2 linked regions of the Homo sapiens genome follow. The protein of the gene in region 1 purifies or fractionates together with the protein of each later gene. This does not show direct contact. Each region holds a gene or a part of one and is shown on either strand. Other genes may lie near its edges.

Evidence for each region. Proteins that work in one complex are often made in the same cells at the same time.
Region 2: the proteins of ZRANB1 (region 1) and HECTD1 purify together in Homo sapiens (affinity purification with mass spectrometry; 5 studies listed by BioGRID and IntAct, with this or other methods). This does not show direct contact.

What each region holds. Positions count from the first base shown.
Region 1 is NC_000010.11:124,945,116-124,952,144, forward strand, and holds part of ZRANB1 (ubiquitin thioesterase ZRANB1), read left to right. Parts: intron 1-7,029. UniProt on the Homo sapiens protein: Ubiquitin thioesterase, which specifically hydrolyzes 'Lys-29'-linked and 'Lys-33'-linked diubiquitin. Also cleaves 'Lys-63'-linked chains, but with 40-fold less efficiency compared to 'Lys-29'-linked ones.
Region 2 is NC_000014.9:31,127,776-31,134,804, forward strand, and holds part of HECTD1 (E3 ubiquitin-protein ligase HECTD1), read right to left. Parts: intron 5,901-7,029; coding exon 5,734-5,900; intron 5,640-5,733; coding exon 5,463-5,639; intron 1,674-5,462; coding exon 837-1,673; intron 232-836; coding exon 10-231; intron 1-9. UniProt on the Homo sapiens protein: E3 ubiquitin-protein ligase which accepts ubiquitin from an E2 ubiquitin-conjugating enzyme in the form of a thioester and then directly transfers the ubiquitin to targeted substrates.

The DNA of each region.
Region 1 (7,029 bases):
TTGCAAGTGAACAACTCATTTGGCATTTAGTGCATTCACATTGTGTAACCACTACCTCTGTGTTGTTCCAGAACATTTTCATCATCCCAAAAGGAAACTATGTACCCATTAAGCAGTTACTGCCCCCTACCCCTACCCGCTAACCCTTGATAACTGCCAGTCTGCTTTTGGTGTCTGTGGATTTACCTATTCTGGATATTCATATAAATGGAATCTTTACATATCTGTGAGCTTTTATGTTGGGTGTGATTGTCTTTTAATTGCTTGTATGCCTTTGGAACAGTCTTAAAATCATTTTTTTTTTTTTTTTTTTTTTTTTCAGGGAGTAGTGTACTATGAATACTTGGACTACAAGGTGGTGTTATAGTACATGTAGGTTTATAGATGAAAATGAACTAGACTTCATTGTGACGGTTCTTAACCTCACAGTGAAGGTCACTAAACCTCACTAAAGGTCATAGAATCCTTTAGGAATCAGGGCTTCATTTCAACCCCCGGTTGCTTCAAGTCAGTGGATCTCAGGATAAGAACACCTGATTTGAAATATTTTCTTTCCTTGAAACACACAAGTTAGATGAATCAACATGTTTGTCTTTATGACATTATTTCTTCTTGGTCCTGCCTTTTTCTACATATCCTTACTACTTTTGACTAGACGACTAGCCATCCTTGTACCTCTTTGCATTTTATTTATTTTTTTGAGACAGGGTCGCGAGGCTGGAGTGCAGTGCTGCAATCATGGCTCACTGCAGCCTTGACTTCCTAAGCTCAAGCCATCCGCCCACCTCAGCCTCCTGGGTAGCTGGGACTACAGGCGCATACCACCACGCCTGGCAAATTTTTGTATTTTTTTTGGAGAGACGGGGTTTTACCTTGTTACCCAGGCTGGCATCTTATTCCTGTGCTCAAGTGATCCACCCACCTCAGCCTCCCAGAGTGCCAGGATTACAGGGGTAAGCCACTGGGTCCGGCCCATCTCTTTGCATTTTAATCACTGAGTTCAATTTAAAAGTGGAACAAGGCCAGGCACAGTGGCTCAGGTCTGTTAATCCCAGCACTTTGGGAGATTGAGTTGGGCGGGTCACCTGAGGTCGGGAGTTCGAGACCAGCCTGACCAACATGAAGAAACCCCGTCTCTACTAAAAATACAAAATTAGCCGGGCATGGTGGCACATGCCTGTAGTCCCAGCTACCTGGGAGGCTGAGGCAGGAGAATCGCTTGAACCTGGGAGGTGGAGGTTGCAGTGAGCCAAGACTGCACCATTGCACTGCAGCCTGGGCAACAAGAGCAAAACCCTGTCTCAAAAAAAAAAAAAAAAAGAAAAGAAAAGTGGAACAAAAACTTCTACCAATAGGACCAGTATTGGATTTGACGTTGTTTTATTTATAAAATGATTTGTCATTAAGTTGCTGTTTCTACCTGCAAAGTTTCTAGATTCTTAGGGGCAAGGGTTGATTGTATTTGGTTCTTGGTAATGTGGACTATGTCTTTCCTATTGGCAAATAATTTTTACTATTAACTCTACAATGTCATTCTGAACTGTTATACGTAAGGTTATAATTATAGGCCTGTTTCTATGGGATAGCCATATTCTGATGTGTAAACATAACTGAAATATGTTAAATACTTTTTTTAAACTTGTTTACATTGTGTTGGGTTAATTTAAAAAAAGGCTTGAGCAGTAAGACTAACAGAAGTTCACATGTACTCAAAATTAATCTTTACGTCCCTTTTCTGCCTGCCTTATGTTCCCCAGATTTCATTAGATACAGTGTATTTTGGGTTATTGATGTTAAGTGTTTTTTAAAAAATACATCTCTAAAGTAGTATATACACTGAGTATAAAATGTGAGACTTTTCCATTTAAAGTTGGAAAAAAATTGCAACCTCAGGTCAGCTTTGTAGCTGATAAACTAGGAATGAGGAAGATTCAGTTGTTGAGAGGGCAGATGTCAACTAACACATCAGCAGTATCGAGCAAACATATTGACATAGCTGTTGGGTGTTAAGTTTCACATAAGTCATATTATCTTATGTGGTGAGAGGATGTTGGGGACAGCTGTGCCAAAACCTGATATCAGTAGTAGAGCCTGAGGTTGAGAACCAGGGTGGTAAAGGTAGAGGTGTGAATGTAAATGTACAGTTGTCTCTGGAATGTCTGCAGTTGGTACTAGATGTTTTTAGGTACATCAGGTTTTTAGGGCGGTCATGTGAGCACTCACCATAGACTGCTTTTCTCACTGGGTAGACAATAATGTATCTAGAGAATAGAGCAGCACTACCTAATGCCCTGCTTTTGTTCTGCTATTGTATTGAATCAGTTGCCTTATGAAATTGCACTTCAATTTGTGTACATAGATACGTCCTTAAAAAGACACAGGGTTAGATAAGAACACCATATTAAATCTGTGCTGTAATGTGTATTCCTGAATCCTAGACTCATATATCCAGCTGCCTATTCAGCATCTTTCCTGGAGTGTTTAAAAACTCAAGCTCATTTCAAGCTCAGTAATGCTAAAACAGAACTGATCTCTCCTTCAAATCTATTTTTTCCCAGGCTCTCATCTTGGTTGATGGCAAATTTCTCATTCCATTGCTTGTGCCAAAAGCCTTGGCCCTCCTTGATTCTTCTTTCTCTTATGCCCCACTTCTATTTCTGAGAAGATTCTTTGGCTCTACCTTCAAAATATATCTGTACTCTGACCACTTCTCACTATTCTTGTCCAAACCATGATCTACCCTTGCCTTTGCCCTCCGTACAATCTGCTGTCATCAGAGGAGCTAATTCTTCTCAGAACCCTCTAGTGATCACCTGTTTTACTTGGATTAAAAGCCAGAGTCCCTCAAAAACTCTACAAGGCCATCTACATGCTCTGTATTGCACACTTCAGCTTCCCTCCATATACTTTTGACCCTTGAATAACACAGGTCTGAACTGTGCGCGTCCACTTATACGTGAGTTTTCTACCAGCTCTGCCACCCCTGAGACAGCAAGAATAATGCCTCTTCTTCCTCCTCCCCCTCCTCAGCCTACTCAAGGTGAAGATGATGATGATGAAGACCTTTATGATGAGCCACTTTGACTTAATGAGTTGGTAAATGTATTTTCTCTTCCTTATGATTTTCTTAATAACATTTTCTTTTCTCTAATGTATTACAAGAATACAGTGTATAATACATATACAAATATGTGTTCGACTGTTTATGCTATTAGTAAGGCTTCCGGTCAACAGTAGGCTATCAGTATTTTGGGGGGAGTTAAAAGTTATACATGGATTTTCTACTGTGTGGGAGATTGGTCCCCCTAATCTCCATGTTGTTCAAGGGCCAAATATAGTTTATCTCTGAACTAATCTGTTTTCCACCTTTTCCATTTCATTCCAGCCACTCTTGCCACCTTTTTTTTTTTTCCTATAAATAAGCCTCAAGCCTTTTACTTGCTGTTTGCTCTGCCTGGATTGCTCTCCACCTTCGCTTCTTTTCTCATGTATTGCCTTCTCAATGAGGTCCTCCATGACTGCCGTATCTAAAATTTCATCCCTGTCCATTATCCCTCCCCACAGCATTAATTTTCTTCATAACACTTCTAATATGCTTCATCATCTTGTTTATTATTTGTCTCTCTCTACTCTAGAATTTAAGCTTCCTGAGGGCCAGTAATTTTATGTTTTGTTCAAAGCTGTATCTTAGTATGTACAACAGTGCCTGCTACATACATACTAGGCACTCAGGTATTTTTATATCAATGAACGAATGAATATTTTTGGGAACTAGGGTCTGGGCAAACCTTTATCCTACTCCTCCTATGAATTTCTAGATTCTTTGCCTGCTTCCTAGCTCTCTATGTTTTTCAATAGTTGGGGCTCAACCCAGGAGAGCCAGTTTTACTTCTCACTGGTTGTCAGGAAGACTGAGGTAAGTAGTGGGTATGAAAGGGTCTTACAGGAAAGGGTATAGAGGCTTCAGTTTATCACCAGGCAGTCTATGGACATGAAAAGTCTAAAGTCAGGTTTATGTTTAATTTCTCTACCTCCCTACTTTCACTCATGGCAATATTTGTTTTTTCAAAAAAATCATTCTATGTGTTTGCTATAACTATCAAATGAGATTTTTACTTGAAATATTTTATTCAGTTGTCATTGGACCTGCTGCTTCCTAGTTGGCGTTTATCTTACTTCCTAAACAATAGCTGCATCTTTCTTAAGTTTAGGAGCTGAGATTTGGTTGGGGCTGTTGAAGGTATAGGGGGAAAAAAATCAAACTTAAGTAACAAGTTCACATTGAAACTATGTATACACATATATATGTATATATATATGTTTACACACATATGTATATATATATGTTTACACACACATATATGTATATATATTCACGTATACACACACACACACACACACACACACATTTTTTTTTTTTTTTTGAGACAGGATCTTGCTCTGTTGCCCATGCTGGAGTGCAGTGGTGCGATCACAGCTCACTGCAGCCTTGACCTCCTGGGCTTAAGCAGTCCTCCCACCTCAGCTTCCCTAGTAGCTGGGCGTACAGGTGTATACCACCATGCCCCGCCAATTTTAAAAATGATTTGTAGAGATGGGGTCTCTCTGTGTTGCCCAGGCTGGTTTCAGACTCCTGGACTCAAGTACTGGGACTGCAGTTGTGAGCCACCACCTGGCCTGAAACTGGAATTTTTATGCTGAAATACTCAGTTGCCCAATAGCAGTGGTATGAACAGCTTTCACTATAGGGAATATGTGAATCAGTAATGCCTCCCGGTGCTCTGAAGTTTTGGGGTGACGTGAAGTGCACATGCAGTGGTGTTCCCTGTTGAAAATCAATGACTTACGGACTGAACCAGAATCTCTTCTTTATCAAGTAGCAGGATGAAGTGGCATCATGAGGATTATAATTCTGATGGTTTCTGAGCAAAATTTGTCCCACTTTCAGAATTTTGACATGTCTGTAAAGACTTAGATGATTTTTATTGTTTTATTTTTTAATTAATTAACTAATTAACTTTTTTGAGGCAAGGTGGTCTCACTGTCTCCCAGGCTAGAGTGCAGTGGTGTGTGATCTTGGCTCACTTCAATCTCTGCCTCCTGGGCTCAAGCAATTCTCCTACCTCAGCCACCCAGGTAGATGGGACTACAGACGTGCACCACCACGCCTGGCTAATTTTGCATTTTTTGTAGAGATGAGGTTTCCCCTTGTTGCCCAGGCTGGTCTCAAACTCCTGGGTTCAAGCAGCCCGCCCGCCTCGGTCTCCCAAAGTGCTGGGATTACAGGTGTGAGCCACTGTGCCTGGTCTTACATGATTTTTAAAACATAGAACATGTATTGGTAACGTTTTCTTATATTAGTTGTCTGCAAAAATATTGTTATATTTAATCTATTATTTTCCCTTTTCTCATAACTTAATTGTGTTGAGAATCAATGTTTGAGGCAAATCCATTTGGATTCTAATTGTATTTGGGCCTCTTGCCAGAAATCCGTATAACGTGTCATATGGTGTCTGTCCACTCTAGAGTGCCAAGTGTAACTCTAGAAATATCTAAATATTTCCACAGTTTCTGGATGGGTCTGGATATGGTGGCTCAGTCCTGTAATCCCAGCACTGTGGGAGGTTGAGAAGAGGGGAGGATCGTTTCAGCCTAGGACTCTAAAACCAACCTGGGCAACTTGGCGAGACCTCGTCTCTATAAAAAATAAAAAAAATTAGCAGGACATGGTGGTGTTCCCATGTGGTCCCCACCTATGCAGGAGGCTGGGATGGGAGGAACACTTGCGCCCAGGCTGCAGCGGGCCATGATTGTGTCACTGCATTGCAGCCTGGGTGACAGAGCAAGACCATGTCTTAAAACTTGCATGGTATTAAATATGTCAGAAGGTATTTGTCCATTTGGTTTTACTTACACACCTTGTTTAAAAAAAAAAATAGCAAAGTGTAGGCGTATTACATTTTAAAATATTCTTTTCAATTTGTTTTGGTATTGATATTAAGAATTACGTATATAGATGGACATTTACAATTTGTCAGAGGTTTTTCTCAAGTAAATTATTAAATTAGTATTACTTTTTTCTCTGGAGAAACAAAACCGTTGCAAAATGTAATCTTCTATAATGATTTTTTTAAAAAAAGTTTCTACTGTTGAAATATGTGCCTGGTGTAATGAAAGGGAGGTTGTACAATAATCCAAACAAAATTAAATTAACTTCTGTGAAGGAAAAGTCATTTAGTTTTTGAGAGATTATATTCCTTTGAACTGGAATGATTTTAAAGTGATTTATATTACCAAGAAAATTACCATGTCAAAACGGAAAAGGAAATCCTTGCATTGGACACTGGTGATTTTGCCCATTTAAGACATCTTTGGGGTGACTTTTTAACTTGAGAGAAAACTCAGGGCATACAAACGATTGTGAAGAAAAAAATAGAAGAGGCTTCTATTCTCTAGTTCATTACTCCTTAGCTTTAAAAATTATTTCTTTCACAAGGATATTTTATTGATGACTTACCTGAAGGCACAAAACATTTGGTGTTTTTAAAAACACACCATCTGCTGGTCGCGGTGGCTCATGCCTGTAATCCCAGCACTTTGGGAGAGCGGGGCGGTCGGATCACTTGAGGTCAGGAGTTCAAGACCAGCCTGGCCAACATGGTGAAACCTCGTCTCTACTGAAAATACAAAAATTAGCTGGGTGTGGTGGCGGGCATCTGTAATCCCAGCTACTTGGGAGGCTGAGGCAGAAGAATCTCTTGGACCTGGGAGGCGGAGGTTGCAGTGAGCTGAGATCATGCCACCGCACTCCAGCCCGGGCAACAAAGTGAAACTCTGTCTCAAAATAAATAAATAAATAAAAACAAAAAAATAAAAACAGTATTGATGAAATAAGTTATAATGTCCAAATTTACATTTTTAACTTGCCCATTGACTTCCTTATAGGTTCATCTCCCTCTACCCCCTCTTTGGGCTTTTTGGGTGATTTGCATGACCAATATAAATAGAGTGGCAGGCAAGATAATGTCC
Region 2 (7,029 bases), on another chromosome or scaffold:
ACAACTTACCATATAAGGAATATTCTGCTTCCTGACCTGTGTCACTCTCACTGGAAGTTGATGTGAGGCTGGTGGTTAAAGTGTTACTTAAAGATTGACCAACTGATAAAACTGTTGTTGCTGTAGCTACATTGCTGCTGCTAGTAACACTGGATGTTGACATAGTCACTGTTGATGTAGTACCAGGTGTGGTCAAATTAGGGAAACTCTGAGCACCCATAAGAGGAGAAGCTAAAGACAAAAATGAAGCAAATCAGTACAAATAGGTGAGATTGTAGAAACCTCAGAAAAACCAAGTTTTTTATTTTTTAAAGAGTGAGGTCATAAAACACACTAATAATAAAATGGTTCCTGAAAAGCAACAACTTTGGGAACCCAACTGAAATCCAACTAAAAATTCTTTTTATAGCACTATTATATAATTACTTTGACCTGTTAGCAGCTTAAATTGGAATTTAACTTTCAGAAGCTAAGATCAATGTAGAGTCTAAACAAAAGCTATACTTATATGATGCTTTGGTTTCACTGCACTATGATAATATTTAATAGTCATCTATTTCCTCATGCAACTTTGCTTAATGATGTATCATAAAGGAGTGAAAATCAGAAGTACTGTTTTATGCTTCTAAAATAAGAGGTTCTTTATCACACCTAGTCTGAATTCTGCAAATATTATGATTCTAGAGAACTTCATATTCCTGAACTGCTAAATTTGATGTAGCTTTATCTAACATGGTTAATGATCTAGTTAAAAACTGCAGCCAGAACAAGAGACCCTATTTTGCATCCCTCCAAGTGGAAAAAGCATCGGATTCCAGAAGGAAAAGCTCACTTACTTGCTGTGCTCATCACATTCCTCCCCAAAGTATTAGTGTTGTTATCACTGCTGCTTCGGCTTAGATTCATGTTGTTCGTGGCATTAGTCCGTGCTATGTTTGCCACTCTCCTTACAAAACTCTCCAAGCTAGATGTTTCTCTTGAGGACAGGTTAGGTACACTTGCACTAGAGCTCATAGGGGCCCCAGCAGCCAACAAAGAACTCACTGACAGTCTGTTACTTGCTGAAGAGCTAAGAGGTCGTTGTGAAGCTGCTTCTTTATTAGTTAATTCAGATACTGAACTAACATCAGGAGAACTAACACTGACAATTCCCATGGATATTGCACTAGACTCCCCAGGAGTACGAACAGAACTATCAGGGCCTAACTTCCTTTCAGCATTTTCACTTCCCGTTTCCGCTGTTAAGGTGCTGGTGCTTGCACTGGAAGATGACCCTACTTCTGTTTGAGGGACGTTTTCAGCAGATGAAAGAACAACAATTGGTTCATGGACATCAGCTCCTGAAACTATACTGTGTTCCATTACAATTTCTGATCTCCGTTCCGTTTTGGTCGAACCCAAGCTGATGTCGCTGCTACTGGCCACGCTACACACAGAACTGCTGCTTCCTTTTCTACTTGAGGAGCCTGCAGCAGCAGATGTCTTGTCTGGACAGTTGTTTTTCACCAAGCTGCTCCATGATTGCGTTGTGCCTGAAACAGTGGATGAAACAGGTTTGGGTGATGCCACTGTATCAGGGTCGTACCCTGGTGCAAGCTTGAGGTCAAATTTTCCTTCTGCGCCCATACGGTAAGAGTTTGAGCCACCAGCATCCCAGGTGACATCAATCCAGCCTGGAAAGGGACAGGAGTTTGTGAGACCCAGCAGAAAGCAGATAGGAGCGTGTCAGACAGTAGCTCCACAATATGGGATCAGCTTTTCATCAGTGCTGTCCTTTTCTGAATTTCTATAGTCAATCAAGGTCTGCCCACTAAAATATATGTAAATTTTTGGACTCAATTATTTGACGATATGACTAGCTATCTGAAAGTCTATATTATTTAACTCTCATGATACAAATATTTTAAGGACAAGAAATATGTACTCTATACAAGGTTTCCAGGAAATGTTTAAAATTCTTCCTTTTATTTCCCTTATTTCTGAACTATTCAGTCTATGACATTTAAAAGCAATGTAAGGGTCATGTTTAAATCTACTGGGTTATATTTCATTTTTAAAATTATTTGATTTTTAGAGATGAGGTCTTGCGTTGCCCATGCTAATCTTGAACTCCTGGGCTTAAACGATCCTCCCACCTCAGCCTCTGGAGTAGCTGGGATTATAGATGTGAGCCACTGCACCTGGCTTGGTTACTTCTTAAATGGAAGAACTGTTTAAGAAATTTTAAAAGATTGATATACATGGTAAAATACTGCCACTTCAGCAAGTAAACAGAATCTAGGTAAAAGTTTTAAAACTGCTAAATATAATTATGTGTAGTCAAATTTTTTTTCTACAAAAACATGCCAGCTTACCATTAATTTCTTACAATTTGGGCTAACCTCTCAAAATATTCATATATTGCCATAGAAATTTTAGTCACTAGTTCAAATAAAACACTAAAGTTAGCATTTCGGTTGTGTTCTCAAAGTTCAGTGGTTCCTTGGTTCTCTTATATTAAATAATTAAGTTCAATAAATTTGAATAAACACAGAAAATTCTAAAAAAAAATTTAAAGAGCATACTGAACTCTTTTATTAGAACTATCTGCTAAAGCTAATAACATGTACAGAATTAACGAGCATAATGATATTCAATCTATATATTTACTTGTAGTAGAAAAATGATATTCTTTTTTTAAAAAGGTAATTAACTTCCAAAAGCAAAAAAAAAATTGTCTATTAAAAGCAAATTAATAGAAATTTTACAATCTTATTTTAGTGTTATAAGCTAACTATTTCAGGGAAAAACATAAGACATAAAAAACATTTTTTTAGAAGTATAACAAGCCTTTATAAAGTTCTTACCCATACATAAAAGGGGCCCAAGATCACATACACACCCATCCACACACCCAGATGCTCACCCACACTTACACCAAGTTCATATGTTTATGATAGCACTCAGAGGGAAATAATATTGAATTACCTGTGGGGATTATCTGCATATGTGTTCTTTGAAAGGAAAAGTGACTGCCCCAAATCTACATAAGTAGCTTAGATGAGATTTTTCAATTGCCTCTATTTTTTTCTGTATGCTGAAATAATCTCTGAAGAACCAACATTTAACTATCTCTTCTGCTACACAGAAATGTGTGAGAAAAGGAAAAGTTTCAAAAACATAGCCCAATCTCAAATAAAAGTAACTTTTGTATTATATTAATTGGCCCAAAAAACATACTCTCTCAACTCCTTCTACACCCAAAAGATAAACCAAAAAAAAAAAAAAATAGAGTCAGTAATGACTATCCATCATTAGAAATGGTTGGTTTAAGTATTTGAAAGCTAAGAACCCTCTCTGACATAGAGACTCAAAGGCATAACTTGATGGGAATGGCCATGTTGATTAGGCAAAACTAAATTTCTACATTTGTCAGATTAGCAAAAATAGGCCTTTCTTGAACGCTAAACTCTGAGATTTCTAGGCTAGGTGATTTTTTTTTTTCCCATCTGTGGCAGCTAAAACGAACAAACAAACAAAAAACACTCAAAATATTCAGATGTACATGTTAGCACTCTCTCATAGGGAGGTGCCATACCTCACGGTTCAAATATATTTTATAGATCAGTAACATTATTATACTGACATGTAATTGCAACTTACTATGCAGCAAAAATGAATCGAGAAGAAAAATAACCCACAGTGTCTATTTACCTTTGTATAGGCAATTGCTTAAGTTACTCTGCTTTTAACATTTGTACTTCAATAAAATGCTTATGTATGTATAGGAATGTCACAGTGCAAGATGCTGCTAGTACAGGCACAAAGTATTAAAATTATTTTTTGAAGACTGGTGGTTGTATTAAAACTGTTGTGCCATTGTATCTTGGGAAAAAAAAAAAGATTCTAATTTCCCTATGCAATTGCTTCAGTTGACTCCATCCTGAGAAAAAAGAACTGCATTCACACATCTCTAACTAGCCTCTTCTTATCAAGTCACATACATCAAGGCCAAAACAATTACAGGAAATAGAATAACAACTTTTTAATAAGTATCATCAAGATGCCTAAAAAGAAAACTTGAAATTTTCTGAGTTGAATGGCACTACTATTCAACTCAGTATAACAATAATAGTTGATATCTCAACTATTACTGGTATTTATGAATTTTAGGTCGCTGTAAACCTGTTTTGATTACAATGATTTGCAATTAGGGCATGATACTACATAAATACATTTGGCAGTAAAATAATTCAAGGAATAGAATCTTAAAAGCAATATAGTCAAAGGGTTTATTTGAATAAATAAATGTCTTTACCACATAAAACATGAAATTAAATGTCAGTCATTCTCGTAAGTACCGTCACATTTATTCTAGCTCTTTAAATATGTGGTGTAAGTTGCCGCGTGCGGTGGCTCACGCCTGTAATCCCAGCTCTTTGGGAGGCCGAGGTGGGTGGATCACCTGAGGTCGGGAGTTCAAGACCAGCCTGACCAACATGGAGAAACCCCGTCTCTACTAAAAATACAAAATTAGCCAGGCATGGTGGCCCATGCCTATAATCCTAGCTAGTCAGGAGGCTGAGACAGTAGAATCGCTTGAACCTGGGAAGCAGAGGTTGCAGTGAGCTGATATTGCGCCATTGCACTCCAGCCTGGGCAACAAGAGCGAGACTCTGTCTCAAAAAAAAAAAAAAAAATACATATATATACACACACATATATGTGGATATATATATGTGGTGTAAGTTGAGAATATAAACATTTTTACTTTTTTTAATGCCAAAAACTGATACAAAATTGATGAAAACAAACCCACTGCCATTTAGGCAAATTATCTGCTAATAAGTCAGCCTTATAGTTTGAAGAAAATAATTAGCCACTATAATTGCTTTAAAGTTAATAGCAATTTATTAAGTGGATGACTTTGCTAAACTGTGCAGCATCAAAGAAACTTGATTCACATAGCAATATTTAGAAAACATGATAAACTCCTCCCCAAAAAGCAGGTAGGCTAAGAAACACTTTGAAATAATAATAATCTACTAACAGATAAAGAGACAATGTTTCTTGTTCCATGCATTATTAAAAAACAGTAAAAATGTTAATCCTTTTTCTTCTATATGATTTATGATACCATAAAAATTATGGTGTGAGACTAACAAGATAAAGAAAAACATAAGAAATTAAAATAAAACTCACAGTAAGCTTGAAAATAAACTAGGGGAAAAAACCGGAAGTGTGTCTTGAAGATACTCAACTTACACTAGGCTTGATCACTTCCAAAATACTACCAGTAAGTTTCTAGTCAAAACCCAAGAACTTAAAATTTTCCCTTATTTTCTTTACCTTTTTTCCATTTGTAATGTGGTATCAACAGTTCTTCTAAACAGTGCTCATACATTTATGCAATTTATAAATTATCTTAAAAGAAAAAATTTAACTACCCATTTTCTACACAAAAGTGCTGAGCACCTACTCACCATTGTGTAGTTCTCCTGTGACAGTGCCTTCTCCCTGTGGGCTGCCATCCTGATCTCGCCATTTCCAATCCAGGCCTCTGATAACACGAGCTCCTGGAACCATGTATTTCAGAACCTGGGAACGTACTAGACGTCTCTGCCGTCTAAGATTAGCTTCTGCTTCTTTAGCTGCTTTCCCTGTCAGGTAGAAATTGGAGAAATAAAAACCAAATCACTTTTTACAAAAGTAATTGTTTTAGTAAGTTAGAAAAGCCTCGTATCATCTCTTTACCTAGCTGATCTTCACATACTCCATTTACAGTGCCATAAAGTTCGAATCCAGATAATGAGAGGTAGTGTGTTTGTCCACTGGCATTTTTCCCCATCTGTTTAATTCTCACATGTCTCCACCCTTGTTTCTCATCCTTTGGTGGATCAAGAGGCCAAGTTGCAGTTGACCTGTTAATATGTTAGAGAAAAAATTATGTAATATTTTAAAAGATGAAAAAGAAATTCAAGATGGGAAAGATTTTTTATATAACAGAGACCTGTAGAAAAAATAAACTAACTTTCATATTAACTCAACAGTTCATTACAAGAATCAAGAAATCAAAGGAAAAAAAGTAGTCAAGAGAACAAGTTAAAAACGAAACATTTAAATGTACGCTATTGATTTGACTCATAACATTAATGATTTATGATTAATATAATTCAAAGATAAAAGACAAAATGCTGGGTGCAGTGGTGTTTGGGTGGCTGAGGTGAGGGGAATCACTTGAGCCCAGAAGTTAGAAAGCAGCCAACATAACAAGACCCCATTCTCCTTAAAAAAAAAAAAAGGATGGTTTACAAAGAGTAGGAGAAATTCTCTTATGATGGAAAAACGGACTTAAAAACATTTTTGCAAACTTTTAAATAACGTATTAATATTTTGTCTTTAAAGCATGAAAGGGGTGAAAACATCACCTATTAATCCTAATGTTAAGAAGCTCCTCTCATACCATATCAAATGCCAAAAGCAATTTGGGTACATAATCTACCCCCTGATATGTGCCAAAATGCATAAATAAAATTTAGTAGAACTAATTTTTTAGAAGTTACTGACTTGTCTTTTAAAAACTTATTCAATACATAAAATTTAAGGATAAAAATAAAAACATTTTAAGTCAGCCTTAATTCTATAACGAGCAATAGCCACTGCTAATATGTTGAACATTCCTAAGTATTATGTGATTATATGGAGAGTTTATGGAAAGTTTATTTCACTTGTTTCCATTAGTGGGCTGTGTGTGTATGCATAAATGTGTGTGTGTGTGTGTGTGTGTGTGTGTGTGTGTGTGTGTGTGTGTGTGCGCGCGTATGTATATACAGCTATATACCAATTTTTAAAATAAATATTCACAGCATCTCAGCCTTTTGGCTAAGATACAGTGTAAAATAGCTCGGCTTTCTATTATTTAAACTAAACCTTTTGACAAAGTTTTAGTAAAGTCAGTGTTTCAAAGTTTTAATGCCTAAAGTATCAAGTGATTTGTTTTTAGAAAGAAAATTTTGCTTCAATATTTCACAAGGAAGAGAGCTCTAGAGT